3 separate regions of the Homo sapiens genome follow, and regions 2 and 3 are each linked to region 1. Evidence: fine-mapped expression QTL. A gene starts in region 1. Each other region holds a variant in brackets. All regions are shown on one strand. Distances are from middle to middle.

Region 1 (10,377 bases):
AGTATACTCTAAAATGATGATTTAAAGTATAGTGTAGTAAATACATAAACCAGTAGCACAGTGATTTATTATCATTGTCAAGCATTATGTACTGTATGTAATTGCATGTGCTATAGCTTTATGTGACCGGCAGCACAGTAGGTTTGTTTAACCAGCATCACTACAAACACGTGAGCAATGTGTTGCATATGACATTATGACAGCTATGACATCACTGGGTGATAGGAATTTTTCAGCTCCATTATAATCTTACGGGACCACCATTGTATATGTGGTCCATCATTGACCGAAACATCATTATAAGGCACATGACTATACATATATGTATATTATAATATGTATATTCTATGTGTATACACATTTTAGAGTAAATTGTAGGTATCATACCCAGTTACTTCTAAATATTCTTTTGCTAGTTTGGTAAGAAAAAGGACATTCTCTTACATAACAACAGTACAGTTTTCAAAGTCAAGAAATTTAACATTGATATACTATTATCTATAGTCCATATTTAAATTTAATCAATTATTCCAATCAATTTATAGCTACTTTTTTCCAGTCAGAGATCAAATCCAGGATTCTGTCTCTTTAATCCCCTTTAATTTGGAACAGTTCCTAATACTTCCTTTGTGTTTTATGACCTTCACATTTTCGAAGAGTACTAGCCAGTTATTCTATTTTATTTTTTTTTTAGATGGAGTCTTGCTCTGTTGCCCAGGCTGGAGTGCAGTGGCACGATCTCGGCTCACTGCAAGCTCCACCTCCCAGGTTCATGCCATTCTCCTGCCTCAGCCTCCCAAGTAGCTGGGACTGCAGGCGCCCACCACCACGCCCGGCTAATTTTTTTTTTTTTTTGTATTTTTAGTAGAGACGGGGTTTCTCCATGCTAACCGGGATGGTCTTGATCTCCTGACCTCGTGATCCGCCTGCCTCAGCCTCCCAAAGTGCTGTGATTACAGGTGTGAGCCACCACGCCCGGCCAGTACTAGCCAGTTATTTTATAGAACAGTTCTTACTGTGAGTTTGTCTGGTGTTTCCTCATGATGAGACTTATGTTATGCATTTTTGGCAAAAACATCATGAAACTGATGTTGACTCCTTCCCAGTGTATATGATTAAGAAGCGTATGATGTTGGTTTGTCCTGATATTGGTGTTGTTTCTGTCTGATGACTTGCTTAAGGTGGTGTCTGTCTGATTTGTCTAGTAAAGCTACCATTTTTTCCTTTGTATAAGTAATAATGTGAAGTGTTACTTTGAGACCATGTAAATATCCTGGTCCTTATCAAACTTTTACTGAGTGGCTTTAACATCTATTGATTATTTCCTAACCCCATCATTCCTATTATATTTAATAGTTGGCATTCTACTGTAAGGAAGTAATTTTCTTTCACCCTTGTTTGTTGGTTGTTTATATTAACATGAATTTATGGATATTTATTGTTTTCAGTGGTTTCTAATCCATTACTAGTCATCATTTATTTGAATACCAAATTGTCCTAGATTTGGCCAGCAGGAGGTTCTTTCAGTTGACTCCTGTATGCTTTTGACATGGCTACATAATTCTTAGAGCATGTCCTTATTTCCTGGTGCCACAACATGTTTCAGCAGTTTTGTTTCACCGGTTTTTAGATGACTATTAATGTCTCTTTGTATGCTGTGTGAGAAAAAAATAATGTACATATGACCCAACTACTTTGGACGGAAATCCATTTTTAAACAGACTGGGCATATCTTGTACTTTAGTTGAAACCATTATAGTGGTGACAAAAATAATAATCTTAAAGGTTCTTTTTTGTGTGTTCAAAAGAAAGAATTATTTCTTTCAGGACAGTGGTCAGTTGAAACAACAACAACAAAAGAGAACTTAAGATCAGGAAACCTGGGTTTGAGTCCCCAATCCAACTGAACAGCTATTTTAGAGAAATTTACACAAGGGTCTCAAAGTTTTCTCATTTGCAAAACGGAGCTGTGAAGGTTCTGTTTGGCAACATATGATAAAGCATTATCAAATATATAGTATTTCCTCGGCCCAGCATGCCATAATAGGTTTCAGACTAGGTATAGTGTTTTTGATTATGTGGATAACTATCTTAAAATCCTTCTGAATGTAGTCGAGGATGTTTATAAGAGTATTTGAAATAAAACTTAGGAGCCATGCAAAAAACCCAGGTCAGTTATCTTCTGTATTAGAAATGATAAGCACAAACTGTATGCTTGTTCAACTGCTTTCCAAAATAAAACATTTTTTGATAGTTTGAAATTGGGTATATAAAGAATATGCAATTGAAATAACTCAACTTTTGGGTGTTTTTGTTTTTGTTTGTGAGATGGAATCCCTGTCGCCCAGGCTGGAGTGCAGTGGTGCAATCTCGGTTCTCACTGCAGTCTCCGCCTCCCAGGTTCAAGCGATTCTCCCGCCTCAGCCTCCCAAGCAGCTTGGACTACAGGTGCACACCATGACACCCAGTTAATTTTTGCATTTTTATTAGAGACAGAGTTTCACCATGTTGATCAGGCTGGTCTCAAACTCCTGGCCTCAAGTAATCTGCCCACCTCAGCTTCCCAAAGTGCTGAGATTACAGGCATGAGCCACCACACTCAGCCAAAATATGAATTTTTTGGATAGTCTTGAAATTTGTATCTTATTTATCTAATCAGTTTGTTTGTTAAATTTCCATTTTATTTTGCACTGGATTAAAAACATCATTATTATAAATATTTTTGCATTGCTTTACAATTTACAAAGCACTTTCACATGCATTCTCTTATTTAATATTCACAGCAATCCTGTGAGTTATATAGAGCAAAATTAGTATCCTCATTTTATAGATGAGGAAACTGAACCTCAGAAGTGTAAGGTCACATTCTGTGTAACAGATGGCGCAGGAACTGTGAGTTGGTGGCTACTGCATTCCCAGTACTGGAGACAAACCTAGCACATCACAACACCCAGTAAATATTTGTTGAATGGATAGATGGAACTCAAAAGCAGGTCTTCTGATTCCAGAATTTCAGGTCATAGGACATAAAATAAAATTCGAATCAACTCATAATAATGTTGAGTGATGCTGATAAACAAGCCTTTCCTGGCAACCAGGAATAATCTACAAATATAAGAAGTCGAAAGATGTTCAGCATTGCTCATATTTAAATACAGACCAATCAAAACAAGGACATGCCATTTTTACCTATCAGATTTAGCAAAGATAACAAAATGGGCTATTCTGGGAACCAGGGAAGATGTGGGAAACAGACACACACTGGTGTGCCGCATGCAAACTCTTGCCACCCACTTGGAGAATGTGTTGCTGTCTTTCAATCTTTCAGATGCACGTAACCTTTTCCCTAACAAGTTCACCTTTAAAAACTGTTGCTACCGACTCCCATATGTACTCAAAGATAGATGCCTAAGAATTTTCACATGCACGTTATTTGCAGTAATAAACAACCAAAAACCATTTAAATGTTAATGAATAGACTAACGATAGTGTAGAATATTGACAGGATGGAAAACTATGCAGCCATTAAAAGGAACAAGGCAAGTCAGTGTGTGCTGATATGGAACAATCTCCAAGATATATTGATAATTGTAAAAAGCAAGATGTCAAAAAGCCAAAGGAAAACCTATACTGACCTGTGTTTGCCTATGCGTAGACTGTCTCTGGTTAGATTCAGAAGACACTATTAACAATTGTTCACTGGCCAAGGGGATTGGGGCAGGAGAGACTTTACACGGGGAACCTTTGGATACTGTTTCACTTTATAATTAAAAGATAATTCGAGAAGATATATCAAGGCCTATTTCTTGGAGGCCAGAGCGCTCCTAACCCCTGAGCCTGCCTCAGCCTCTGGCTCCCACCCCCGCAGCCGCCCCGTCGCCTCTGAGCAGGACGGGGCCCCACTCACCCTTCCCGGCCGCAGACAGAGCGCGGGCGCCCGGGGGAGCCCTGCAGCGGGCAGCTCCGCAGCAGGAGGCCCCGCAGCAGCTGCGCGCCGGGACGGAGCATGACTAGGCCGAGGCCGAGGGCGCAGGCGCCTGCTCCGAGGCCAGCGGGCAGCCTGAGGCCGCGGGGCCGGCGGGGCGGGGGTCGGATCCTCCCCCCGGGCTGGGGGCGGGCTCCTAGACGGCCGCGCGCCCGGGAACCCGGCGCCCACAGAGCCGCGGCACCATGGCACCTGCTGGACGCCCGGGGGCCAAGAAGGTGAGTTTCGTCCCCTCGATCCTCGCGGAGCTCCTGGCCGCTGGGCTGCGAGCGACTCCGTTCACACCCGGCGTCCATCCCTAGCCAAGCCCTGGGGCCTCGGCAAAACACTTGGACGGGATGGCCCTGAGCCTCAATTTTCCCCTGTCACGGGTTGGTTAGCGTTTATGGAGCCCTTACTCGGTGCCTGGCGCTGCACAGAGTGCTGTGCTCAAGTTATCTCCTCATCTTCACAATTATCCCCATTTCACAGGTGAGGAAACTGAGGCTCGGCGAGTCAGGCGACTAGCTCAGGGTCACGGGTCCAGCCCCGCGGGGAGCGAGGATCAGAAGTCTAGCTTTCGGACGCATGTCGCGCACACATTTTCTTCCCTCAACCGACCCTCGCCCGCAGCTCTTTGGGCTAATCCGTCCGGGAACTCTTCGGACTGTCCCCTCGCGTTTTGGAAAAGTCAGCAGCCTGGCCAAGCAGCCTGGCCTTGCGAGTCGCCGGCTGGTCTGAAACTAGTCCTGGGCAAGGACGCCCCCAGAGCTGCGGTGCAGGGTGGAGGGTAGGTGGGATTCGCTAGCACCCCTCAACCTCCTCTCACCCGGTGGTCCCCAGCTCCTGGCCCCTTTCCTGGTCTGGTCACCAGATGTTGGCTTTATGCCCAGCCATTTCTACGTCGAGTATGTGTGGGGGTGGGATGAAGGAGTGACTAAGCAAAATTAGGAAGGGCATGAGCTTGGACGAAAGACATCCCCAGGACCCTTCAGAGACCCCCACCCGCTCCAGCCCTGTCATTCAGAATGGGAGGAAGGGAGGAGGGGCAGTTTATGCGTGGAAATGTGCACCACCGAGCTATTTATACTAAAAAGTTAGAAACGACCAAGATACTCTGCAATACGGGATTCTAAATAAATTAAGGTTCATCTACTTAAGTTATTAGACAGTTAAATAACTTAGTATGAGAACCAGCTAAGTGCCTTGGCAATGTTAAGTTGCAAAAGGAAATATATCACAAACTGATCCCAACCATATACAAATATTTATATACACACTGTAAGGAAGGACACAATAATGGTAATAGTTACACAAGATGTGGAATATTGGTTTAAAAAGCATGTTTTAGGATATTTTTTCAGGTTATAAAAGCAAAATGTGAGCATTGAAAGAATACAGTTAATAAAAATAATCAAAGAACATTGTGCTTTTTTCTCTCAACTTTCTCTAATGCTATGTTCATCTTTACAGTTCATATTTTTAAACGTTTTTAAAATGCCCTGTTTTTGTTCAGTGTCTTTGGGGCCTCTACTGTTACAACACCAAGATTATCACACACTAATCCATGTGAATGTGTACCTGGGAGTTAAGGTGTTAATGGGAAGGAACTAATCTCACCTCTCTCCTCAGCTAGCAGGTACATTTTAAGAATTCATTTAATTGCCACAGACAAGACCTCCAATTAGGTCTTAAATCCAAAAGAGCAGTTCTGCTGGCAAATCTAGGAAAAGGGGAAGTTATTTTAGACAGACTGGGTTTTTCTGATCACCTCCTACTACACAGTGAAGTTGATCCCCACTGAGTATGAATAGAGATGTCTTGAAGCCAGATCTTAAACCCAGAGGTCTTACGTAGTGATATCTGCAAAAAGGGGGCATAAATGCACCCTAGAGCTCGCTGTCAGATGCAAGGCAGGTTCACTGCCAAACTGATGGGGAGGAGGGAATGAAAATATAAATGTACTGCAAAATTAATTTACAGGGTTCCTTATTTTACATGTTCCTGTCTTTATAATTTTACAGTTGACTTTAGATCGTACTAGTATAATGGTGAGGAACAACACACACTGGGGCCTATCGAAGGGTGGAGGGTGGAAGGAGGGAGAGGATCAGGAAAAATAACTAATGGATACTAGGCTTAATACCTGGGTGAGGAAATAACCCATATAGCAAACCTCCAATGATGCACATTTACCTGTGTAACAAACCTGCACATCCTGCACATGTACCCCTGAACTTAAAAGTAAAAAAAAAAAAAAAAAAAAAAACTAAAGAAGGGATCATACTGGTATAGTAATTAATTGAGGTAGTTAGAATAGCAGTGAAGGAAGGGCTAAAAGATGCTCTGATCTCAAATCTTGATAACTTAGTTATTTTGCTAATGGCTATGTAGAAAAATGGCAAATTGGCCGGGCACAGTGGCTCACACCTGTAATCCTAGCACTTTGGGAGGCCGAGGCAGGCAGATCATCTAAGGTCAGGAGTTCGAGACCACACTGGACAACATGGTGAAACCCTGTCTCTACTAAAAAATACAAAATTAGCTGGGCATGGTGGCATGCACCTATAATCCCAGCTACTTGCGAGGCTGAGGCAGGAGAATTGCTTGAACCCTGGAGGTGGAGGTTGCAGTGAGCTGAGATCGCGCTACTGCACTCCAGCCTGGGCGACAAGAGTGAAACTCTGTCTCAAAAAAAAAAAGAAAGAAAAGAAAAGAAAAATGGCAAATTTAAAATGGTGGACAAACATCCAGATAACAAATGAAAATGTCCTCCCTTTACTTGGTTTCATAAAGACACAGTCAAAATATATACTACAATTTTCTTAAAACCTACCTAATTGTCTGCTAAAGAGTAACATTTTTTCTTCTTCAGGACAAAAATTCTAGCATATGCAATACATCTGACATTTTCAAAACAGTCCTGTTTATTTGCTAATTCTTGGCATAGTTTCTTAAGTGTCTACTCATTTTAGTTGTTATATGTGGTGGTAGGGATATAGACCAATAAGATATGTCACCTGCCCCCAAGCCTCTTACAGTCAAACTGAGGTGACAAGTAAGTAACCAGATACTGCTGTACAGGGGGATGCATGAATGAAGGATCTGTGAAGTTAAGCAGGACACAAAAGGGGTATAATCACAGGTGAGACTGGGTCAGTGAGCCTGTGCTCTGGTAGCAATGGAAGACAGTTCAGAGTAGGGCTGGAGAGAACTGGAGACCATTTCAATAATCAAATGCAGTGAGGATGGTGGGGCATTTGAGAAATGTGTAATACACTTGGCATAACCCTGTGATAGGTTGGATGTGGGAGGTGAGAAGCTAACCTACAACATCTGAATTCTGTGCCAATGTTTTCCCTCGACAATTGTTTGAGTAAATTTGATTCTTTTTTTTTTTTTTTTGAGACAGAGTCTCACTCTGTTGCCCAGGCTGGAATGCAGTGGCACAATCTCAACTCACTGTAACTTCCAACTCCCAGGTTCAAGCTATTCTCCTGCCTCCACCTCACAAGTAGCTGGGATTACAGGCACCTGCCACCATGCCCAGTTAATTTTTGTATTTTTAGTAGAGATGGAGTTTCACCATGTTGGCCAAGCTAGTCTCAAACTCCTGACCTCAAGTGATCTGCCTGCCTCAGCCTCCCAAAGTGCTGGGATTACAGGCGTGAGCCACCGCGCCTGGCCTAAATTTGATTCTTAACATGGTGAACCTAATGAAGTGTATGGGATTTTCAGGAAAACAGTTTGTACACAGTAACTGTACCTCTGACTTTCTCTTCTGTATTCCTGTGTAGCATTTATTGGTCACATTCTGCTGTGATTATTTGTTGATTTATTGGCCTTCCCCAAAGTAGCCAGACTTTGAGCTTGTGGAGGGCAGAGACCTTGTCTTATTCTGATGTTTATCCCACTTGCCCACAACTATACCTGACATGTGGAAGGTCTCAATAAACGTCCAAAATTTAAGGCCTTTTTTATATTTCAAAAGTACAAATTGAAAAGAGTGAATTGCATTTGATGCAGGGAGGAGAAAGAAAGAGATGAGAATCAGTAAATATTAACATTTCTTCTGCATTCAGCTAAAATTCAGCTTTAGATATAAAATATGGAAAAATAACCAGAGTTGAGAGCTCTCTCTGCCAAAATAGTGTTTATGTTTAACATAGTTCACACAGCTGGGCTCCATTTGCCTGCCCTCCAAGTGCACAGTAAAAAGATGCTGTAGGTAGAGTGACCTGGTATTTACCTCTAGTTAAACCCCTTCTGATGGACCTTCTTGCACTGCAGAGGAAAGAAAACTAACCACTTTGCCAGACTCCTTTGCAGCTAGGATCTGGATAAGAACTAGCATCCCCAATCAGATGCACCAGTATGAGTCTGGGAAGGTGGAAGCATAGCAAATGTGGCCATAGTGCAGCATTCCAGGGTCACGTGAGGGGCAGCTGAGGTCGCTGGAGCAGCCTCCTTCTCCCTATATGACAGCTGTGTCCTGAAGCCAACAGTTCAATAGTGGCTTCTCTTAGTTGTGGCAGAGGGTGCAGCCCCAGCCGGCCAATTCAGTCATGTTTTTCTAGGGGTCATTTCTGGAAGCCCAGTGTAAATTTTTTATGTACCCATTTCTCAATATTAAACTCCTTTCTGCTTAGTCAGAGTGGTTTGTACTTCTGCAGCTAAACTGAACATGGGGAGAAAGCTAGAATAAGCCCCCTCTCTAGTCATGCCATTCGATGGAGATTAAGAGATTATTCAAGCCATATTTGACCTCTCATGTTTGGTTCCATACTGTTAACAGGACTGTCCTGGGAGGCTCTGTGGGAAGATCCTCACGTCTGCTTTAATTTCTGGTTGCTTTTATTAGATCCAGGATTGACCCAGCTAAGGACAAAGACTCCTGTAACCAAGATCAAATTAGCTTCCCTCTTATTCTTTATTGCCTTTATGGCCTTCCAGCCTCCTGGGAAAAGATTGAAGAAAATAGTATATCAAGCAATATGGCCAAAATGTGTTTGGGATCTCTTTGTTCCTTGGTATCCAAGGAAGCTCGCTCCTGACACCTGGGTGGGTCACTTTGTGTGGGGAGTAAGCAAAGGAGAAATAGCAGATGCCAGACACTAGAACAGAAGCAGTTTCTCTCCAAAATCTGTTCCCCCTCCTTCCGAAGGATTAGCGTTGGAGCTGGACACATGGACATTCACTGATGATACTTCCTGGCTTCCCTTGCAGCAAGGTAGAGCCATGTGGCTAAACTCTCACGCAGGAAATGTAAATGTCAATGAGATGAGTCACTTCTAGGTCTGAGCTAAAAACTTTAGGATGAGCTTTGCCACACTGTTTCCTCATCGTTTGAGACAGAGTATGAACGTGACTCTGATCCAGTTTCCCCCATGCTGAGGAGGACAGTACCCTAGGGCTGGGTTGGCAAACGCTTTCTGTAAAGGGTCAGATAGTAATTATTTTTAGCCTTGGGGGCCATACAGTCTCAGTGGTAACTACTCAACTCTGCTACTGTAGTGGAAAAGTGGCCATTAGACAATATGTAAATCAATGGGCAGGGTTTTACCTAAGACTGTTTTTACAAAAACAGGTGATGTGCCAGATTTGGTCTGTGGGCTGTCATGTGCTGACCCCTGCCGTAGGGAATGGCAAAGCAATAAGATAAAAGGACTGTGCAATTTGGTGCACACTCTGTAAAAAAGAGTCCCCCACAAACAGTGGCTTTCCTCTTACAGAGGAAAAAGAAACTACTTTTATTTAAAGCCACTGTTGTGGGGGCCTCTTTTTTACACAGCTTAGTTTTACCCTACACCCAACACGTAGGCCAGTAAGCTGCCTATGTACCCTGCTTGATGTCTCCCTTGGATTCAGGAACTGAGGGGGTTTATGTTGATTTCATAGAACAGATAAGACTAGTTAAAAGAGGCATCTGAGGCTTTTCTCCCTGATCCATTCATTGCTTTGTGTCCAGCTATGGGCAGGCCTGAAATGAACTGGCCTATTATCAATAAAAGGTTGCATCTTCCACTGATGCAGCCTACAAAAGAGGGATCAGGATTGCTGTGGGGAGTTGGGAGGAGTGGGTGGTTTGCATTGCTCAGGGAAGGCATCTCTGAAAAGGTGACACTTGACCAAAGACCAGAAAGCAGTGAGGGGATGACCCTGCAGGCACCTGGGGAGATGTGCTTTAGACCAAGTGAAATGGGAAAAGTTCCCTTATGCCCCTTGCAGGGTGTGTGATGGAGGCGTGGATCACTTCTTCAGCACCCCACAGCTTAAACCCCTAGGGGGAGCATGCAGGTACCCCATGGCAGCATCTAGGGGTGAATGTTTACAGCTCCTGAAGCCCCAGTGGGTGTGTGTTACAGTGTGCTCTTTCAGCTTAGCTGTCCACTGGCAGCTTGTGTTAATCAGCT
Region 2 (10,377 bases), 250 kb after region 1:
TTTTTTTTTTTTAACAGAGCTACATATACACCTGTAGGATTTCTTTGTGGGAAAAACTTGGTTTTCCCTTATTTATAAACTATTATAACCATGGAAGTCCTTTTTAAAATTGTTTTAATGGCATGGCTCCATTTCCTCTGGTGGTTTTCCGAATTTAGTATTCTTGTGACCTTTGACCCACAGCTTCAGTAGTATAAGAGGAATGATAAGGGCCTCTGGGAAACCTAGATTCCTCTTGAGTTTAAAAAATTAGTTAAATCACAACTGACTATCCAGCTCAAGCATCAGCATGTTATTTATTCCACATACATCAGCCTGTGGTGGTAATACATCAAATGACCATTGGCAGAATTAGAGGTGGAGGGGAGCAGCATATTTGAGAAATGCTTCAGCAGTTCTCTTGCCAGGGTAAGCCATGACCACACACTGATACCACAGTATCCACACATCTCCTCAGAACTGTGCTGAAGCCTCACAGTTCTCATTTTTAAAGTACTCTGGAGCCTTACTTCAGTTATGCATGCTGAAGGATCACTTTGTAGGTGAAGTAGGCTTTTGAACAAGTGTTACAGTGGAAAAAAAGGAGGTGAGGCAGGGGAAAAGCCTTGTTATTAAGTAAATGTGGCTCACGCCTGTAATCCCAGCACTTTATGAGGCTGAGGCAGGTGGATTGCTTGAGCCGGGGAGTTCAAGACCAGCCTGGGTAACATGGCGAAACCCTGTCTCTATACAAATTAGCCTGGCATGGTGGAACATGCCTGTGGTTCCGGCCATTTGGGTGGCTGAAGTGGGAGGATTACCTGAGCCAGGGAGGTCATGGCTGCAGTGAGCTGTGATCATACCACTGCACTCCAGTCTGGGCAACAGAGTGAGACCCTGTCTCAAAAACAAACAAACAAACAAAAGGTCTTACCATGGTAAAATATATATAAGAGTTCTACCAGTAAGTACTGAAAAAAATGTATTTCTCTCTTCATTCTGTCATAAAATGGATATATAGTTGATGGAGCTTTTTAAAAATGCCAAGTAACCTGTTAAAGAATATTTTAATTTTCTCGTGTGTGCATTTGAAAACATAGGAAACTTTTTGCATACCAGTAGCATTTATACATTTGACATCACTTATGTTTTGCATTTTACATGCTATTTGTTTTATACATTTAGTAGTTTTATTCACTAAAAATCTTTTTTTAATCATAATTTTGAATATTTGAATTATCAATCGTGGATTTGATAGGCAAATAATAAATTCATAATTGTTTGTAAGCTATTATTAGGTACTTTCGGATTTTCTGTATAACTTTAAGGGTGAAATAACCAATAAGCCAACATAACATTTTTGAGATGGAATCTCACTCTGTCACTCAGGCTGGAGTGCGGTGGCACAATCTCGGCTCACTGCAACTTCCGCCTCCCGGGTTCAAGCAATTCTCCTGCCTCAGCCTCCTGAGTAGCTGGGACTACAGGTGCCTGCCACCACACCCAGCTAATTTTTGTATTTTTAGTAGTGACGGGGTTTCACCATGTCGGCCAGGCTGGTCTCAAACTCCTGATCTCAGGTGATCCACCCGCCTCGGCCTCCCAAAGTGCTGGGATTACAGGCGTGAGCCACCACACCCGGCCACATAACATCTTTTATTTGAAGGAGAAAATAAATAGGCATGTGCTCATAAATTGTTTCAATAACATTTAACCAGTTCCAATAACTTCTGGTATTTTAGAGGTATCCTGGGCAAGTCATACTTAAATCAACCAGATTACGACTAGCTCATGCAAGAAGAAAAGGTGCAGCAAGTCCTGTTCTCCAAGAGGATCATTGTGACTCTTTACCAAGTGTGTTACAGGTAGAAGAGAAAACTGAAGAGGTGGGAGAAGGAAGAGTCAAGCGTGGGCCATCACAGACAACAGAACCCCAGAGCCTTGTGCAACTTGAAGATACTTCATTAACACAACTTGAAGCCACCTCATTACCTCTCAGTGGTGTTACCTCTGAACTGCCTCCCACTATATCTCTTCCACTTTTGAATAACAACCTCGAACCATGTTCTGTTACCATAAATCCACTCCCATCCCCTCTTCCTCCAACACCACCACCTCCCCCACCTCCTCCCCCTCCCCCACCACCACCACCTCTGCCTGTTGCTAAGGACAGTGGCCCAGAGACACTGGAGAAAGATCTGCCTAGAAAGGAGGGGAATGAGAAGAGGATCCCAAAGTCAGCCAGTGCCCCCTCAGCACACCTCTTTGACAGCAGCCAGCTGGTCAGTGCACGGAAGAAGCTCAGAAAGACTGCTGAAGGTTTGCAGAGGAGGAGAGGTACGTCAACATATTTTCATGGTCCATCTGTTGTATGACATCAGGCATAGTAAAAAACTATATTTTTTGACGTTGCAAAGCTTAAAACACTTTATTTTTGACATTATTTGATAGTAAACAGGTTTTCAAAGTCACACTAGAGGAGAATTCTTAGTGCATAAAGTACACAGAAATGTATGCCTTCTTGGGCTGTTAGGCATGTTTTAAAAACAGATCTTCTAAAGTGATACATTCATGTTTGGTAATGTATAATGGGTGGCTCCTTTTGTGTTAGGGAAAAAGTTTTGATTTTAAACCTGAGATTTTTAAAAAAATACTCATATCAGAAAGGGTAAGATATCTGGTAAGGACTGTCACCACAGGGAAGACATTGGCAGGATCATGTAACATTTGTTCATACATTTGTTGAGGACTTTTGTGTATTTGTATAAAGAAGCAAAGAAGAACAGGGAGTAATCTGTTCAACTTACAATGTGACAGATGTGCCTCAATAAGGTTACTATTTTTTTTTCTAATTTTTTTTGTTAAGAGAGATTCAAGCACAAATAAAATTATTTCTAAAAAGAGCAGAGAATAACCCTTGCCTTTTGCCTTTAAGGAATTTGCATTTTGCATGGGGAGAACATTATATAAATGTTACATATTACTTGTATATTACATTTTAACCTGAAGGACCATTCTATAAAACATTTCTTGATGTAATCTGAGTAGGATTTCACATGTAAAACAACTAAATGAAAAAAGCACAGTCTCCATAATAAACAAAAATTAATTTTTAAAAACAAAATGTGTAACCCCATCACTCTGAATTTGGGTGGAGCAACTGCAATATGGAAATCCTTTGGGAATCACACCCATAATACTACTAAGACCACCTCCCAGTTCCCAATCTGGTCACTTCTCTCATGTAGGAAATGATAGGAATACCAACAGTACCCACCATGGATTGGGTCTTGGGATTTTCTAAAAAGAAGGATAATTAGGATCCCTTGTGTTCTGATCACCTTCTGCACACATTTCATGATCCATTTTGAAGATGGTGTTTCAGCGTCCTGTGCTTTCACAGTTGCGAACGGTAGAGGTTATACAGTTTCATTCTAATTAAGTGCAGTCCTAACTGTAATACTGTTCTGTTTCATTTTCCAAAGTGAGCTCACCCATGGATGAGGTGCTAGCCTCCTTGAAGCGTGGTAGTTTTCATCTGAAAAAGGTTGAACAGCGAACTCTGCCTCCTTTTCCTGATGAAGATGATAGTAATAATATCTTGGCACAAATAAGGAAAGGGGTAAAATTGAAGAAGGTACAGAAGGATGTTTTGAGAGAATCCTTCACACTTCTACCCGATACAGACCCTCTAACACGGAGCATCCATGAAGCTCTTAGAAGAATTAAAGAAGCATCCCCAGAGTCAGAGGACGAAGAGGAGGCTTTACCTTGCACAGACTGGGAGAACTAACAAGTAAACGGCCTTATTGTCTTTAGTAGCATTCAGTAATACAGGTTTTATATCGGATGATGAGGTTTGGGGTATTTTTTATTGAGCCTGAGGCATATCGTTTGTTTTATAACCCAATTTTAGCATGGATCACAAATTTATGAACTTCAGGTTTTACTTAATTCTGTAGTTTCTAGAAACTTAAGATAACTTTTTAATGATTATTGCTATGTAAATACTATTTTTAAAAATGTCCTCCTCATTAAAAATTTCTGCTATACAGCTGTAATTGCAAGTAAAGTGACAGTCTCATTCTTGCCCTAAAAAAACAGAAAAGGGCCTGGCACAGTGGCTCACACCTGTAGTTCTAGCACTTTGGGAGGCTGAAGCAGGCAGATCACTTGAGGTCAGGAGTTCAAGACTAGCCTGGCCAACATGGTGAAACCTCTTCTCTACTAAAAATATAAAAATTAGCCGGGCGTGGTGGCGGGCATCTGTAATCCCAGCTACTCGAGAGGCTGAGGCAAGAGAATCACTTGAACCCAGGAGGCGGAGGTTGCAGTGAGCTGAGATCGTGCCACTGCCCTGGGCAACAGAGTGAGACTCAGTCTTAAAAAAAAAAAAAAAAAAAAAAAAGGCTTTCCAGGTTCAGTGGTTCGCTTCTGTAGTCCCAGTTACTCAGAGGTTGAGGCATGAGGATCTCTTGAGCCCAGGCGTTCAAATCCGGCCTGGGCAATATAGCAATACCCCGTCTGTAAAAAGAAATCAATACGTCAATTTTTTTTTTAATGCAAAGCCTTTTCTGACAAAGTATTTCAGTAACAAACTGTTATGCACACTGAATTTTGATGTCATGTTAGCTGACCTCAAAGGAGTTTTCTAAGATCATTCTGGAAAAATTGTTGCATTGTCTGATTATTTAACTTTCTAAACCCTTAAAAAAAACTACTTATTGTCACAGTTACTGTATTATCTAGACAAATTTGCAGGTATCATTAATATATAAAAATTATCTACATATCTAATGAATACTCCTATACATATTAAGATTCTCTTTGGTTACACATGTAGCATTCTCCTAATATAATAGAGAGCTATAGTCTACTACATTTTAATATACTAATTATAGAGTAATATGGCACAGATTACACCAAATATATAGAAACATTAAAGATAACATGGTATAAATTAAACAGTATATCAAATTTATAATGATGGTAACTGAAATGTTGTAATTTGTATAAAATTTATAGAGTATACAAACATGTTCTATTAATTATTATTCTTTCTTGATGGAATATGTTTCTCTAGGCTTCAAACATTCACCAAAGTAGGGAAGACTTGAGTCCTAGAAGGGAATAAGTAAAGGAATAATTAATTCATGTGTTAGCCCTGTGAATTATTTTTGTTGAATTTCTTTTTTTATTTTAGAGACAGAGTCTCCCTCTGTTGCTCAGGCTGGAGTGCAGTGGCACGTTCATGGCTCACTGCAGCCTCAACCTTCTGGGATCAAGCATCCCAAGTAGCTGGGACTCCAGACACATGCCACCATGCCGGGCTAATTTTTTAATTTCTTTGTAGAGACAGGGTCTCCTTATGGTTGCCCCGATTAGCATAATAATTCTTAAAACATGTTTGATCATAAGAATTAACTTGGGGAGCTTATTAAAAATGGACATTCTGTCCTTGACTTAAGAATTCTGAGTAGAACAACAAAGAAAAAAAATCTTTTTTTGACAGGGTTTCACTCTCTCACCCAGGGTGGAGTGCAGTGACATGATCTCGGCTCGCTGCAAGCTCCACCTC[G/C]TGGGTTCAAGTGAATCTCGTGCCTCAGCCTCCTGAGTAGCTGGGATTACAGGCGACTGCCATGATGCCCGGCTCTTTTTTCTTTTTTTTTTTTGTATTTTTAGTAGAGATAGGGTTTCACCATCTTGGCCAGGCTGGTCTCGAACTCCTGACCTCAAATGATCTACCCACCTCAGCCTCCCAAAGTGCTGGGATTACAGGTGTGAGCCACCATGCCTGGCCCAAAAAAAAGAATTCTGAGTAGATCTAATGTATATGCAAGTACACATCTAGATTTTGAAGACATAATATAAAAATGTAATGTATGTCAGTTTTTAAACAACTGATTACATATTGAAAGATTCTATTAGTTACATTAGGTAAAATATTACTGAAAGCAGTTTCACCTGTTCCTTTGGGTATGGGTTCATTAGGTAAATATTCCTGTAGTACCTCTCCACCAGCATCTGCATCAATCAATAACTTAAAAAGGGTAATATTACATTCACCATGATTCAGCCAACATTCAGTAGTAGCATTATCCTGCTTTTTTTCCTATTATGTATACAGTTACATGTAACAGTCACTTTGTATGACTTATGTTTTTGGATCCCAAAGTAACTTCGAGTTATTTTTGCTTGTACATATGTCCACTATGCTTTGTAAAGGAATATATATATATATATATATAGAGAGAGAGAGAGAGAGAGAGAGAGAGAGAGAGAGAGAGAGGGATGCATATCAGTTTGTGAATGTCTAGACTCTCAGGTATGTCTAACTGGGAATCTTTTCCATAGTGGATATTTGTAGGTTGTCTCCCACTTTACAGTTCTTACTACCATGTGTTGTTTCCTTCTGCTGTAGCTTCTCAGGAAGCTGCTTAAGCTTGTGCCTAAAACTACCATCTTTGCACTGACTAATTCCACAGCTGGACCTTCACATAAATGTGTGTTTAGCTCTTTCATTACAGATGGTCCACAGTGGCCCATTCACAGCACACCAGCAGCTGCTCAAGTCAGCCTATCCTTGTCTGTCTCCTCCCATCCCACCATATCCTGCCTAACCCTAGACATTGCATCAGCATTTTGTATACTCAAGTGGCTGGGATGTTACTCATAGCTTCTGGCTACTAATTTAGCCTTAGTATCAGATGTTAACATGGTGCATGGTGTATACACTTTGAAAATTGCTTAAAACTTTTTTCGGGGGTGTGGGAGACGGCTGATGGCTGGAATATGTGGTACAATGTTGAGAGAGAAACAGTGAAACACTTAGAAAATATATGAGCTTGGAAGTTTGCAGTCTCCCTTTACTAAATGTGTGCTAACCCAGAAGCAAACCATAGACTAGTATGGACTGATTAGGCAGTGATGAAGTAGCTGTGTATCACTACTTTGTGATCATGGAGACTAAAAGGCTGTGAACTTTTTATCTACAAATGGCTAAGAAGGCTTTACCGCAATTTGTATTTCCCATTAATTTATTAGATTCCTTTTTTTTTTCTCTCTCTCTTTTTTTCTTTTCTTCAAGACTGAGTTTCACTCTTGTTGCCCAAGCTGGAGTGCAGTGGTGTGATCTTGACTCACTGCAACCTGTGCCTCGTGATTCAAGAGATTCTCCTGCCTCAGCCTCCGGAGTAGCTGGGATTATAGGCGTGTGTTACCACTCCCAGCTAATTTTTGTATTTTTGTAGAGATGGGGTTTCACCATGTTGGCCAGGCTGGTCTCAAACTCCTGATCTCAGGTGATCCACCTGCTTCTGCCTCCCTAAGTGCTGGGATTACAGGTGTGAGCCACTGTGCCTGGCCAGATTTCTTGATTATAGATTTTGTCATTAATGTACTTATATACTTTTAAGAGCTAATTTCTTGAATATTCATAAAGTAGGTAATGAAGGTCCCTTGTTCTGCCTTGTTCGTTCCCCTCTGAAACTCTTCTCTTTCCAGAGATAGCCATAGTCATGCTCAAGGAAATTTCTTAAAATGTATGTAATTACATAGAGGTTTAAAATAAGTTTCAGGCTGAGTGTGAACTTTAAGTTTCAGGCCTGTAATTCTGCAGTACTTCAGGAGGCTGGGGGTGGGTGGATCACTTGAGCCCAGGAATTCAAGACTAGCCTGGGCAACATGACGAAACACATCTCCACTAAAAATACAAAAAGTAGCTGGGCGTGGTGGCTCACACCTGTAGTCCCAGCTACTTGGGAGGCTGAGGCAGGAGGAAATCTGTCTCAATAAATAAATAAGCTTCTAGTTTGTTTCCTGTGAGAGTCTTTTTTTTTTTTTTGAGATGGAGTCTCACTGTGTCAGCCAGGCTGGAGTGCAGTGGCGCCGTATTTGGCTCGCTGCAATCTCCATCTCCCGGGTTCAATCTGGGATTACAGGCGCACCACCATGCCCAGCTAATTTTTTTGAAGTTTTAGTAGAGAGGGGTTTCACCATGTTGGCCAGACTGGTCTCGAACTCCTGACCTCAACTGATCCACCCTCCTCAGCCTCCCAAAGTGCTGGGATTACAGGCGTGAGCCACTGTGCTAGGCCCCTGTAGGAGTCTTCTAAAGTAACTATAGCAATGTAGTTCAAAGGAAATATAGTTTGAGACATGTAATTTTAAAATGTCCAATAGTCACATCAAAAATGAAAAGGAACATGTGAAACTGATGTTTGTAATATTTTATTTGACACAATGTAGCCAAAGTAGTATCCTTCAACACATAATCAACATTAAAAACTAAGGACATTGCTTTCTATTTCTTTTTTTCACACTAAGTCTTCAAAATTCAGTGTATGTTTTATATATACTAGTAGCACATCTCAGTTTGAATGCTAAGGATCTGATACTTAATGAGAAATGTCCTACCAAAACAGCAAAATTGTATTTAATGGAAAAATAGTACTTACTGTTTTAGATTTTTAAATCAAACTGGATTTAAATCAAACTAGATCAGTCACACTAGACACATATCAAGTGCTCATTAGCCACATGTAGCTACAGTATTAGAAAATGCAGAACTGTATTAAGTTGGTACTTTATTCATGTTCCTGTCAGCTTTTATCTGAAGAGTATGTCTTTTATATAAATGCTCCTGTGCTTTGGGTACGCCCCATAGATCTTAAGCACAACACTTTTCAATAAAATGCCCGGGTGAAGTATCCATTTAAAGATTGGTATTAATCCTGTCCTCTAAATGTTAGTCTAACAAAAACAGTTTCTACTGCATTTTGAAGACACCATTTAGTTGTTCTTACTCTAGTAGCAGTTTATGGGGCAAATAGTTTAGACTGAATTTACCTTTTTAGTATATAGTTTTCATACAGTGTTAGAGTAAAAATAATAAAAATGAAAATCTAATAGTCTTTTAAAAGTGATCAAAATCTGTATTTAGATTATTTTGTTTTCATTTTTACTGCTTTAAGAATACAGTCATGGCCTTTTGTAAAAAATGTCTTTTTTACACTTTTTGAGGGAACGTAAATACACTGTATCTTTAAAGGGTCTTTTTTTTAATGGTCTGTATTATTTTGTTTGTAAACAGGTGACATAACAGAAGAAAAATATCATTCAAGATTGGTTCTGATTCTTTTGGAAAATGACAGTTTAAGCACTTGGTTCCTCAGTTGGATAACATTAGATCCAAAGTTCATTGGTTCAGTGGTGTGAAGAAAGGAAGCACAATTGGCAGGTTATCACTTTCCAGTCGTTCCAATAGATGATGGTTAACATGAATTTTACATGTGCAATGTTCCTGACTGCAATGAAGAAAAGGCCTTCTGGAGATTTCTGTTTTTTAAGCACATTCTCCTTCCATCCACATATTTACATCCTTGTAATGGCCAGTTAAGCTAGGGCTTGCTGTAAGTTGGAAGAACACTGGGTTGACAGAGATCTACTGTGAGCTGTATTGGGACTGCTTTGAGAACCATCTTTCAATGCACTGAAAAGTCATCTGAAAAAATAGCTTCTTCCATATCAGCTTATATTAAATACTGTGACACTCTGAGAAAGTTTATCATCATGATAGCTGTAAGTCAGGCATTAAAATCAAATGGAAATACACCTAAAATGTCCGCATTACTCATTTCCAAAGGATTTTTCATAAAGATGTTCAGCAACATCTGAAAAGCTGCATTTATGGAGATACATCTATTAATATGTTCACAACATGATACATTTAACATGGCATATTTTTAGGAGTCTTATACTTTGTAAGGTTTTGAAGTTTCCGTGCTTTTAAATCACTCTTCATATTTCTTGAATTTATAATAGTTTGAATTTTATGTGCATCCTTGTTTATGGAAGGCAGTACTTTGATAATATTTCAAATTATTTTTATTTTGTTTGAATTATTGCTTGATTGCTATGACTGACATGACTTTCCTATTGAGAATCAAAAATCAAGATTCAATCATAGGGATGCAGATCTTAACTCTTTTCACAAATTACCATTTTAAGTTTTTATTTTTATGCTCCACAGTGAAAAGCATGTGCTCTACAAAGATAGAAAGTAGAGACAAGTCTCCGTGGCTGGCATTTCACCATCTTCACATGCACTGAATGGAATTTTGGGAGAATGCCTTTGTTATAGTCACTAAAATTTTAAACTTATACACAGCTTTAGGTGCTGATTTTGGCTGTGATGGAGTCCTGAAGGACACATTTATATGTTCCAGATTTTCAGCAGGATTGTTGTGGGCTTGAATACATGTAGATCATTGGACTCAGTGTGCAGTACCCTGTACATATAATTCTGCATAAGACAGATCTTGGCCTTTCTGTGGAGGGAGTTAAGAACTAAAATACCAAAAATCACTTTATTTCTTTTAAGACAATTATCTGGCCTAA
Region 3 (10,377 bases), 20 kb after region 1:
CTGTGACTTCTGCCTCAGACAGTGGCTTTTTCAACCAGGTCACTCCAGATATACTCTGATTTGGGGGTCCTGTTGTCCTCCCCGGTAATTCTCTTGGGCCAGATTTTAGATAGTTCAGGCTGGCTCTCTCACTCTCATTAGGCTCAAAACAGCTTTCACCCTTTCTGCAGACAAGCCATGAGAGTGTGGTCTGACCCCAATTTAACAGCACCCCTTTTGCCCACAAGCAAAGTAGCTGGCCCATTGTTCTCTTGTGGTCCAGATTTTCCAGGGGACAGTCAAATGAGTCATCTGGCTGGTTCGTGGCCACCTCCTTTTAACTTCTGTGCAGTGTCTGTCTTGCAACTCCCCTTGATACCTAAAATCCATCATGCCTTGGTGTTTCCAGTCAAACTTCCAATCTAATACTCTGTTGCAGGAATAATAGAAAATTGTTGCATTTAGAAAAACGTTCACTGCAGAACAAAGTAGTATGCATGGGACCATGGATAAAGAGAAATAATCCTATTTACAAAACTTGAGCTACTTGTTGGAGAATGTTCCAAGCATCAAGGTCAAATGAATTTTCTTCTCTTGCATTCCCGTGGATATATTGTCCAAATCCATGCCATATTTCAATTTGCTTCATACTTGGTCTGACTTTCTTTGTATAGCCTTTGGTTTTCTAGGGATTTCTGATTAACTTCCTTTTCCATTGTTGAAAGAAAAATAACAGGGCTTCACTTTCCCTGAGGTCTTATAATTTCTAAATTATATTGTTTGTTACAGTAAGTCACTTTATTATTGAAGGCATTTTTCTTGGGGCCTCAAGAAAATTACTGTTCTGTTATGGATCATTGTATTTCACACACACACACTCATACTCTGTCTCTCTCTATCTTTCCATATAGATAATCTTTTGTGTATGTATGTGTGTGTGTGTGTGTATATATATATATATATATATATATATACATATGTATGTATATCTGTTGATATAATTCCATCCCCCTTCCATCTTCTAGAACTAGTCACAATCTCTGCTGTCTTCTCTCTGTTCAGTACTCTCATGTACTTCACCCATTTTGTGCTTATTTATTCATTTCAGTGGGATTTGAAAGTCTTCATTTTTGAACTGGAAAAATTTGCCTAATGCAAATTTACTTAGGTTGTAAAAGTAGGCAAGAATCACTTAGCCAAAGCTTTCTTCTAGGAGATATGGATATTTACCAGAGAAGATGTTTTGTATATGTGTCATACTTTTTAAAAAGTATTAAATATAAATATAATTAAAAGGTGAGGAAAACATACTTTGGTGATGATTAAAATAGTTTAAATAAGTGAGTAGTTTATTTAATTATCATCTGCTAGGAATCCTTAAAATTCATTAGCTATTAGAATTAAAACATTATTCTGTAGACCAAAGCAAGAAGACACCCTTTTTACCCTGACTCCCAAACCTACTGATATTCACAGAAATTTATGATTACACAATAAACACTAGATTTCTGACATCTCATCATCCAAAAATATTGATTTATTCATTGTTTTGTAAGTAAAGTGGAAAAAACAATAAAAATATATTCATCAGAAAGGGCTACGACCAGGGACCTTTGTACTCTTCTTCCTTTGTCTAACAACAAGAAACAAATATTGGTAAAGTAATTTGTATTATTTTCTTAGTTACTTTTTGGAGAATTATACTTTGACTCATTACATTAAAAACTGTTCTCGTATTCTTCTCATTACATTAAAATATTGATAGAGTTAGAAGGACTCTGTTAGAAATTTCAGAATAAATATAATTCATAAAAGTATGTGAAATGTAAGGCTGGGCATGGTGGCTTACACCTGTAATCCCAGTACTTTGGGAGGCCAAGGCAGACGGATCACTGGAGCTCAGGAGTTTGAGACTAGCCTGGGCAACATGGGGAGACCCTGTCTCTACTAAAAATACAAAAATTAGCCTGGTGTGGTGGTGCACGCCAGTAGTCCCAGCTACCTGGGGGGCTGAGGCAGGAGGATTGCTTGAATCCAGGAGGTCTAGGCTGCAGTGAGCCAAGATTGTGCCACTGCACTCCAGCCTGGGCAACAGAGCAAGACCCTGTCTCAAAATAAAAAGTATATGAAATTGAAATACGTTGTCTTTTTCTGAAAGGTGGTATGAAACCTAATGATTGTTATTGAAATGTAAGAAAGGCCCCTGGCATTAATGGATATGGACACAGTTTTCCGTCTGTATGTTAAAACAAAAGTTCTGCTTTAGCCTGATTATCCACCAAGTTTTGACTGTGTGTGTGTGTGTGTGTGTGTGTGTGTGTGTGTGTGTGGTTATATACATATACATACATATATACATATATGACATATTGGACTTATAGGTAAGACTTTTAATTAATTAATTATGTATATATTGAAACACAGGGCTCGAAGGGAGTATTGGGAGAATCTGCTGCCAGCTTCAGGCAGACCTTTCTGTCCTTCGCTGTCAAAGCCAGACTTCTAAGGAGTAGTGAAAGAAAACCCTGAAATAATCGAACAGGAAAAAGTTGCCCTCAAGCCTGACCTGGAACCGTTCCTCACCTTCATCCTCACCATGCCCTGCTATCTCCAGCTGCTGAGCAGCTGAGGTGCTGCAGCCCCTTCCCTTCCAGCCCACAAGTGTGTGCATATTGAGCTCCTGCTGTGGTTAAGCACTGCAACAGACTCTACCAGAGATGCAAAGAGAAGCGAGAGAGGCACCTTGTTCTCCAAGAACTTACTGTCCAATCATGCTGTGGTGCATTCCTTTGAAGATCATGAAGAATAGCCAAACTTGTCTTTGAGGGTGAATTTGACACTTTAAAATAATCAGAAGTCACTGAGACCCAAAGCTAGTGAATAATTCAAGTGACTAAGCTAGATACTTGAGGATGATAGAGCAACACTAAACTAAAGCAATGAGTCTGCTTTTTTTAATGATTTATACAATGACTCCAAAGGCAATCCCAAAGAAAAGATGTAAAGAATGTTTTGAGCAATGGTAGCATTATTGAAATAAATGTTTAACTATCCAAAGTGATTACTTTCAAAGATGATTTTTACTTAAAGATATTAGGTCTGGCCAGGCGAAGTGACTCACACCTGCAATCCCAGCACTTTGGGAGGCCGAGGCGGGCGGATCACCTGAGGTCAGCAGTTCAAGACCAGCCTGACCAACATGGTGAAACCCTGTCTCTACCAAAATACAAAAATTAGCCGGGCATGATGGCGGGTGCCTGTAATCCCAGCTACTCGGGAGGCTGAGGCAGGAGAATCGCTTGAACCCAGGAGGCGGAGCTTGCAGTGAGCCGAGATCAGGCCATTGCACTTCAGCCTGGGTGACAGAGTGAGACTCCATCTCAAAAAAAAAAAAAAAAGATATTAGGTCCTAGAATTTTTAAAATGTGTCTTCATAATCATAGGTAGCTAGGTTATAAACTATTTAAAGACAAGATCACGTGATAAGCTTATAATCTTCTCATAATTCCCCTTACTTAGCATTGTGTTAGACATACTAATAGGTGCACAGTGAAATACTTATTGTTGATTGTTTAAAAATAAAGTTTTAGAAAACCTTTTCAAAAGTCAGAGTTTAGGCCAGGGGCACAGGCTGACACCTATAATCCCAGCACTTTGGGAGGCCAGGGCGGGCAGATCACTTGGGTCAAGAGTTCAAGGCCAGCCTGGCCAACATGGCAAAACCCCATCTCTACTAAATAAAATACAAAAATTATCCAGGCATGGTGGTGCATGCCTGTAATCCCAGCTACTTGGAGGCTGAGGCATGAGAATTGCTTGAACCTGGGAGGCAGAGGTTGCAGTGAGCTGAGATCGCCCCACTGCAATCCAGCCTGGGAGACATAATTCAAATCTATTTTGGTCTTATATCTTCTTATGTTTGTGTTATTTCATGTGTGCCAGTTTCTCTTTTTTTCACAACAATTTATCAATTTGTGGCAATAAAAATGATTTACCTTTTATAGTGTTTGAATGTCGAAAATGTCATGAACATTCTTTGGAATAATACTAGCAAATATTTATTACTCACTATGTCGCAGTCTTTGTTCTAAAGATGATCTCATCTACATATACCCCCCAACAGGGATTCAAAATTAGATAGTGTTTAACACAGTAGTTTACAGGTAAGGAAACTGAAGTTTAAGGAGGCTAGGTAACTTGCCTGAGGTCACACAACTAGTAAATGTGAAATTAGTAAATTTGGATTTGAACCCATGGGGCTGGCTCTAGAATCCATGCCCTTAGCTACTGCACTACACGGCATCTGTCATGCACACAGCTGCTGCTTTTTGTCAAAAATCTATCCAAATTTTTCTGTCGCTGGATTCAAAGTATTTTTTATCAACTTTCCTTATTATGAATTAACTCTTCAAACCTGCCATGACTGTTTCTGTAATGTTGACAACCTGGAATTTATTTGATATAGCCACTTTACCCATAATACACAACCCCACCCTGCTGGAAATTAGAAAGTGAATCATTTACTATTATCTCAAGGCCTTTGGGGTCCTTAAGGGTGACTAATCCAAACCACCAATTAAATACCTGAATATCCTCGCCAGCATCTTCATCAGGACCATCCAGTCCCTGTTTGAATCCCTTAAATAGTAACTCACTACCTCTCGAGATCACTTACTCCTTTTTAAGAAACACTTCATTCTCTGGAAAGTTATTCCATGTATTAACTAGAAATCTATTTATTAATGACCCTCACCTGCAGACTTGGAGCACCTAAAGTGCAAATTTATAATTTCTTCCATATAACTCTTTGAAATTTAAAGATAGCTGTATGGCTTTCCTATACTTACTTGTCCTCATTTCCTTCAACTAAAAGGCATAGGCTAAGATGTGCTTTGTCAAATCTACCTGTGTGACACTGTACAGTTACTTAAGCTTTATGCCTTAATTTCCTCATCTGTAAAATGAGGGTAAAATAGAACCATCCTTATTAGGGTGCTATGAGGATTAAATGAGATAAGTTTCTTAGAAACAGTGCATGTCGTATAACAGGCATTCATTGCACATTATATAGTATAATATAATTATGTTGACTTGGTTTCCAATCCCCTCATCCTCATGGTGACTGTCTTCTGGGAACACTCTGGTACCAAAGCCTCTGCTTATTTTTAGTATGTAGTCCTGAACACCACATTCCAGGGGAGGAC[C/T]GTTTACACAATATCTCCTGCTTGCTTCATAGATTTTGTGGAGAGGGCAGTGCAGGACATCATGAGAATAGCAAGAGTGAAGAAGGTACATTAGGAGGGAGAGATGTCTCCACACCGAATCCCTTCCTTGGGTCTGCACCAGCACAAACAAAGGCTTTTATCTAGTTACTGTACAGTTTAGGTGTGCTAAACTGTATAGGAGTTTGAGACCAGCCTGGGTAACATGGCAAAACTCTGTCTCTACAAAAAAATACAAAAATTAGCTGGGCATGGTGGTGCATGCCTATAGTCTCAGCTAGTCAAGAGGCTGAAGCTTGAGCCCGGGAGGTCGAAGCTGCAGTGAGCTGTGATCACACCACTGCACTCCAGCCCGGGTGACAGAGCAAGACCTTGTCTCAAAAAAAAATAATAAAATAAAATAAAATAAAAATAAAAATTAAGAAAGAAAAAAAGATAAATTTTACCATATAAAAACTTTAAATGTATGAACACTCACACAAAAATACTCTAAACAAAGGCAAAGGCAAATAGGAAAACTGTGTAACAGAGGTCAGAAACCACTCTTCCAGTAAAGGGGTCTTGAGCTGCTTTTGTTCAAACCTCCCCGAACCCAAACAGATGTTGTGAGGGGGGCTCGCCTATGTGATTGGCATTCAGAACCCCACTCCACTCCATTTTCTTGGGCTTACAGGTATTATGAGAGGACAGTGTACCCAGCTGGGACCAAGCAAAGCCTTGGGGTCAGCACTAGCATCAACACCATCAGCCATGTTGATGGTCACTGTTTCAGGTGTAGGATATGAGGTTGTGGATCAGGTGCCCCAGGAAGCACAGTGCACCTCGTGGAGATGATGTGAGGGCCAGGTCGTTGGATCTACAGGCACTGACACAGAGCTCGGACAGTTTCTGAGCATTCATATGTTATCCCGTAACATGGTACCTGCCAGCCCCACTTGACTCTTTCCTTCCCAAGAAGCAGGTCCTCTCCCTTGTTGGGCAACTTCTGGGGATTGATGGTCAGCTCCTGTGCGCCCCCACGTGCACTTTGTACTGCCTCCTCCCCACCTCCCTCAATCCCCACAACTATGTAAGGTTTTCAGAAAAACTTTCTTTTCTTCATATGTTATTATAATAGGACATCACTCCAAAAGCAATAGGAAAGTGAAGTCCTCTTTTCTCAATGGCATCCTTATTAGAGGTGGGGAAATATTTGCCTTATATCTTTCCAGTGCTGGGAAAAAAGGGTGGGGGGAACAGAATAACACAATCTGAGTACTAATATCCTGCCACACATATTTGCATACATTTGATAAGCTAAGGGATAGTTTCCTTAATCTATAAATTAGGAAATAATTACCTTAATCCATTAAATATAGAAAAAGATAAACACATTCAAAATTAGGTAAATGCACAGCAAAGTGACGAGATACCTTTTTTCACCTATCATCAACTAGGATCAATAAGTGGATAATATGTCAATGAGGGTGCAGGGGAAAAGACTTTCTCATACATATGCTTTTTGTAGAAGCATAATCTGGTACAAACTATTTGGAAAGTAATTGGTCCATATTTACAAAATTTAGAATTCACATGCCCTTGGATGAGCAATTTTACTTCTAGGAATATAATCTGCAATTATGTTCATATATATGCAAATATGTATGTCTGGAAACCACCTAAATATCCATCAATGACATATTAGTAAATGAATTATGGAACATCTACAGGATGTTAAAGCATGGCATCATTACAAAGAGTACATTATATCAATATGTGCTAAGATGGAAGGATCTCCTCCATATATTGTTAAATGAAAGTATGCTCCCATTGTGTGTACATAGAATATTTCAGGAAGGAATATCTCCCTCCTAGGGGAGAAAGACTGGTGATAGAAAGTGTGGTGTAGGAGGAAGACTTCCTTTTCTCTGATGCCCTTCTTTAGTGTCTACATTTGTTAATATGGTTTGGTATTACTTTTTCTACAAAATAAATTAGTTTTAAAACATATGTCAAGATTTCTGATTCCAAGGGGAAAAATCAGATAACATGAGTTTCCTGTTGTGATACAGAATGGGAAACGCTACATTACCAATGATGTACACCAGCCAGAAGTGCCTGGGGGAATCTAATCAAGCCTTTAGATTTCACTTCCAGTTCAGTGAAATCAAGGGATATAGGAACAAGGTAAACACCACAATCAGGTGAATCCTATATTCTACAGGCTGGCTGGCCTGGTCTTTTCCACAGGTCATTGTGTTGGAGTTGCTCATCTTTATATGACAAACCAATGCAATGCATGGTCCTGGTTGAGACAAACTGGCTATAAGAGGTCTTTTGGGAACAACTGGGCAAATTTGACTAAGGAATCAGGTTAATTTTGGCAATGCAGGAAAATGTTCTTAATTTCTGGAAATAATGCAATTTTTTAAAATGCATACTAAATGTTGATTACTATTTATAATTTATGCTAAATATTTTAGAATATAAAAAGGAGGCGTTTTTAAAAGGCAAGATTTCCACAGGTTTTGATTTTGTAGGGGGAAATTAAGGAGAAGGTAATTGTCTGCCAAAAAAAAACAGTGCAATTAAGAAAAACTGGCTTGAACTAGCTCTTTCCAGTTCTACAGCAGATGTTTGCTGTACTGGAGTTATCAAGAAGAGCAGATGGCCCTCTGATAAACCCTGCTGTGCATAGACTCAGCAATGCAGACCAGCAAATAGCTGGCATGGAAACCAACTGAAAGGGATCGAAGAGATTTGTTGAAACTAGGGGCGAGGGTCAGCTGGAAAAACAATTCCTGCTTTGCAATGATCACAGCCATGATTTGATACTTTATGCAAAATCATAAACAAAGTTAAGCAACTCACTTTGGCTGTACAGTCAGCTGCCTTGAAGGTGAGCACATATTTTATTTAATCAGTAATGAAAATCCTGAAAAGAGTTGCAGAAGGGTGCAATTTTGCCTCATATCAGTGTTGTTTTGTGAAAGGATTTTGAGAAAAGTAGATGGGGCATGCTAGTGGTGCTATTGCTGGCAGTCACGTTTCATTTATAACCTCCATTATTTATCTGGAGCACAGAGGTGGGAAGAGGAGAGAAAGAGAAATAAAAGTTGTATTTTCCATGATACAGGTGCAGATGAGCCCGCCTTTCAAAATAGTGAAGTTGGAGGAGAATCTTTTCATCTGGTGGTGGCAACTCACCTCGAGGGTTCTGTGCTTTCATAACTAATCATGTTCAACCATTTTTTAATTTATTCACTCATTCAATCACTCATTCATTCACTGTTCAAATAACATTTATTTAGTGCTTGACTATGATAGTCACTCTTATATGTTCCATAGTACCCTATATTTATCATTAATAAGTTCAATGTAGTTTTTGCTTATTTGTTTTGGTTTTTTTGTTTGTTTTTGAGACAGAGTCTCACTTTGTTGCTCAGACTGGAGTGCAGTGGCAAGATCTCAGCTCACTGCAGCCTCCGCCTCCTGGGTTCAAGTGATTCTCCTGCCTCAGCCTACTGAGTAGCTGGGACTACAGGCGCCCACCACCACATCTGGCTAATTTTTGTATTTTTCATAGAGATGGGTTTCACCATGTTGGCCAGGCTGGTCTTGAACTCCTGAGCTCAAGCGATCCACCTACCTTGGACTCCCAAAGTGTTGGGATTACAGGCATGACCCACCATGCCCGGCCAGTTCAATGTAGTTTTAATACTCCCTTGGTCATTCCTGTTTACTTGCCTATTCCCTACTCAACAGGACAGTGAAAACATCTTGTTAGTTGTTGTATTCTCAGCATCCGGCACATTATAGAACTCAAAAAAAAATTGTTGAATGAATGAATAAGTAAATGAATGTACAAACCATGCTAAGGTCAAAGGATGCAAAGATGAATAAGCCACTCTCTTATGTTGCCTTGCTGAATCCTCTTGTCAAAAGTATTTTGAAGAACACGCACATGGTGTAGGACAGACCAGCATCAGATTGTGCTCTTTTAAAGAAGCTGAAGTTGAAGAGACTGGAAGGAGGAAATGGGGGGCATCAGAAAGTGAAATGGCAGGCTGTGCAAACAGAATGGCTCAGGGGGCAACCCTGAGAAGGCCCAGACCAGAGTAGATGAGGAAGCATTTAGGACAGAGGAGAGAGTTAGGACTCAGGGTCATTAGCAATAGACAAAAGTGCACATTCAAAAATGCATCATTGGCTGGGCATGGTGGCTTATGCCTGTAATCCTAGCACTTTGGGAGGCTGAAGCATGTGGATCACTTGAGCTCAGGAGTTTGAGACCAGCTTGGGCAACATGGCAAAACCTCATCTCCACCAAAAATAGGAAAAATTAGTGGAGTGTGGTGGCGTGTGCCTGTGGTCCCAGGTACTCAGGAGGCTTAGGTGGGAAGATCGCTTGAGCCCGAGAGGTGGAGGTTGCAGTGAGCCAAGATTGTACCACTGTACTCCAGCCTGGATAACAGAGTGAGACTCTGTCTCAAAAAAAAAAAAAAAAAAAAAAATTAAAATATGGGAACCATTTTAATGTCTTAAAAAAGTAAAACCAACACAAGCATTTTAACTGTTCAACTAAAACATGAGTGTGGGATACACTATTTCAAACCGCTTTTTTTTAAAATTATTATTATTATACTTTGTTTTAGGGTACATGTGCACAACATGCAGGTTTGTTACATATGTATACATGTGCCTTGCTGGTGCGCTGCACCCACTAACTCGTCATCTAGCATTAGGTATATCTCCGAATGCCATCCCTCCCCACTCCCCCCACCCCACAACAGTCCCCAGAGTGTGATGTTCCCCTTCCTGTGTCCATGTGTTCTCATTGTTCAATTCCCACCTATGAGTGAGAATATGAGGTGTTTGGTTTTTTGTTCTTGAGATAGTTTACTGAGAATGATGATTTCCAATTTCATCCATGTCCCTACAAAGGACATGAACTCATCATTTTTTATGGCTGCATAGTATTCCATGGTGTATATGTGCCACAATTTCTTAATCCAGTCTATCATTGTTGGACATTTGGGTTGGTTCCAAGTCTTTGCTATTGTGAATAATGCCACAATAAACATACGTGTGCATGTGTCTTTATAGCAGCATGATTTATACTCCTTTGGGTATATACCCAGTAATGGGATAGCTGGGTCAAATGGTATTTCTAGTTCTAGATCCCTGAGGAATCACC

Which allele goes with the higher level. Positions count from the first base shown, and alleles are read on the strand shown. Sizes are in standard deviations (SD) of each study's normalised expression.
In carriers of allele C in region 2, the expression in prefrontal cortex of the gene that starts at base 4,062 in region 1 tends to be lower than with G alone (moderate effect, 0.41 SD a copy in BrainSeq).
As copies of C replace T in region 3, the expression in atrial appendage of the gene that starts at base 4,062 in region 1 goes down (small effect, 0.37 SD a copy in GTEx).

What was found. PIP is the estimated chance that this variant, and not a neighbour inherited with it, causes the effect.
Region 2: its variant is the best candidate, but not a certain one, in a credible set for the expression of DMGDH in prefrontal cortex (BrainSeq, PIP 0.78).
Region 3: its variant is the best candidate, but not a certain one, in a credible set for the expression of DMGDH in atrial appendage (GTEx, PIP 0.79).

Annotation. Positions count from the first base shown.
Region 1 is chr5:79,065,613-79,075,989 of GRCh38, forward strand. DMGDH (dimethylglycine dehydrogenase) reads right to left here and starts at 4,062. Exons shown (of 16, transcript NM_013391.3): 1 at 3,908-4,062. The coding sequence starts at 4,008. It overlaps BHMT2 (betaine--homocysteine S-methyltransferase 2), which reads left to right and starts at 4,155. Exons shown (of 8, transcript NM_017614.5): 1 at 4,155-4,203. The coding sequence starts at 4,171.
Region 2 is chr5:79,312,536-79,322,912 of GRCh38, forward strand. JMY (junction mediating and regulatory protein, p53 cofactor) reads left to right here. Exons shown (of 11, transcript NM_152405.5): 9 at 1,722-2,316; 10 at 3,465-3,775; 11 at 9,071-10,377. The coding sequence ends at 3,772. LOC102724530 (a long non-coding RNA gene) reads right to left here. Exons shown (of 3, transcript XR_001742756.1): 3 at 4,474-5,099. Among named protein-coding and RNA genes, the nearest start is that of JMY, 82 kb to the left of the region's middle. The variant G/C (reference allele first, on the strand shown) is at 5,558.
Region 3 is chr5:79,086,090-79,096,466 of GRCh38, forward strand. BHMT2 (betaine--homocysteine S-methyltransferase 2) reads left to right here. Exons shown (of 8, transcript NM_017614.5): 8 at 2,404-3,980. The coding sequence ends at 2,485. Among named protein-coding and RNA genes, the nearest start is that of BHMT, 21 kb to the right of the region's middle. The variant C/T (reference allele first, on the strand shown) is at 5,184.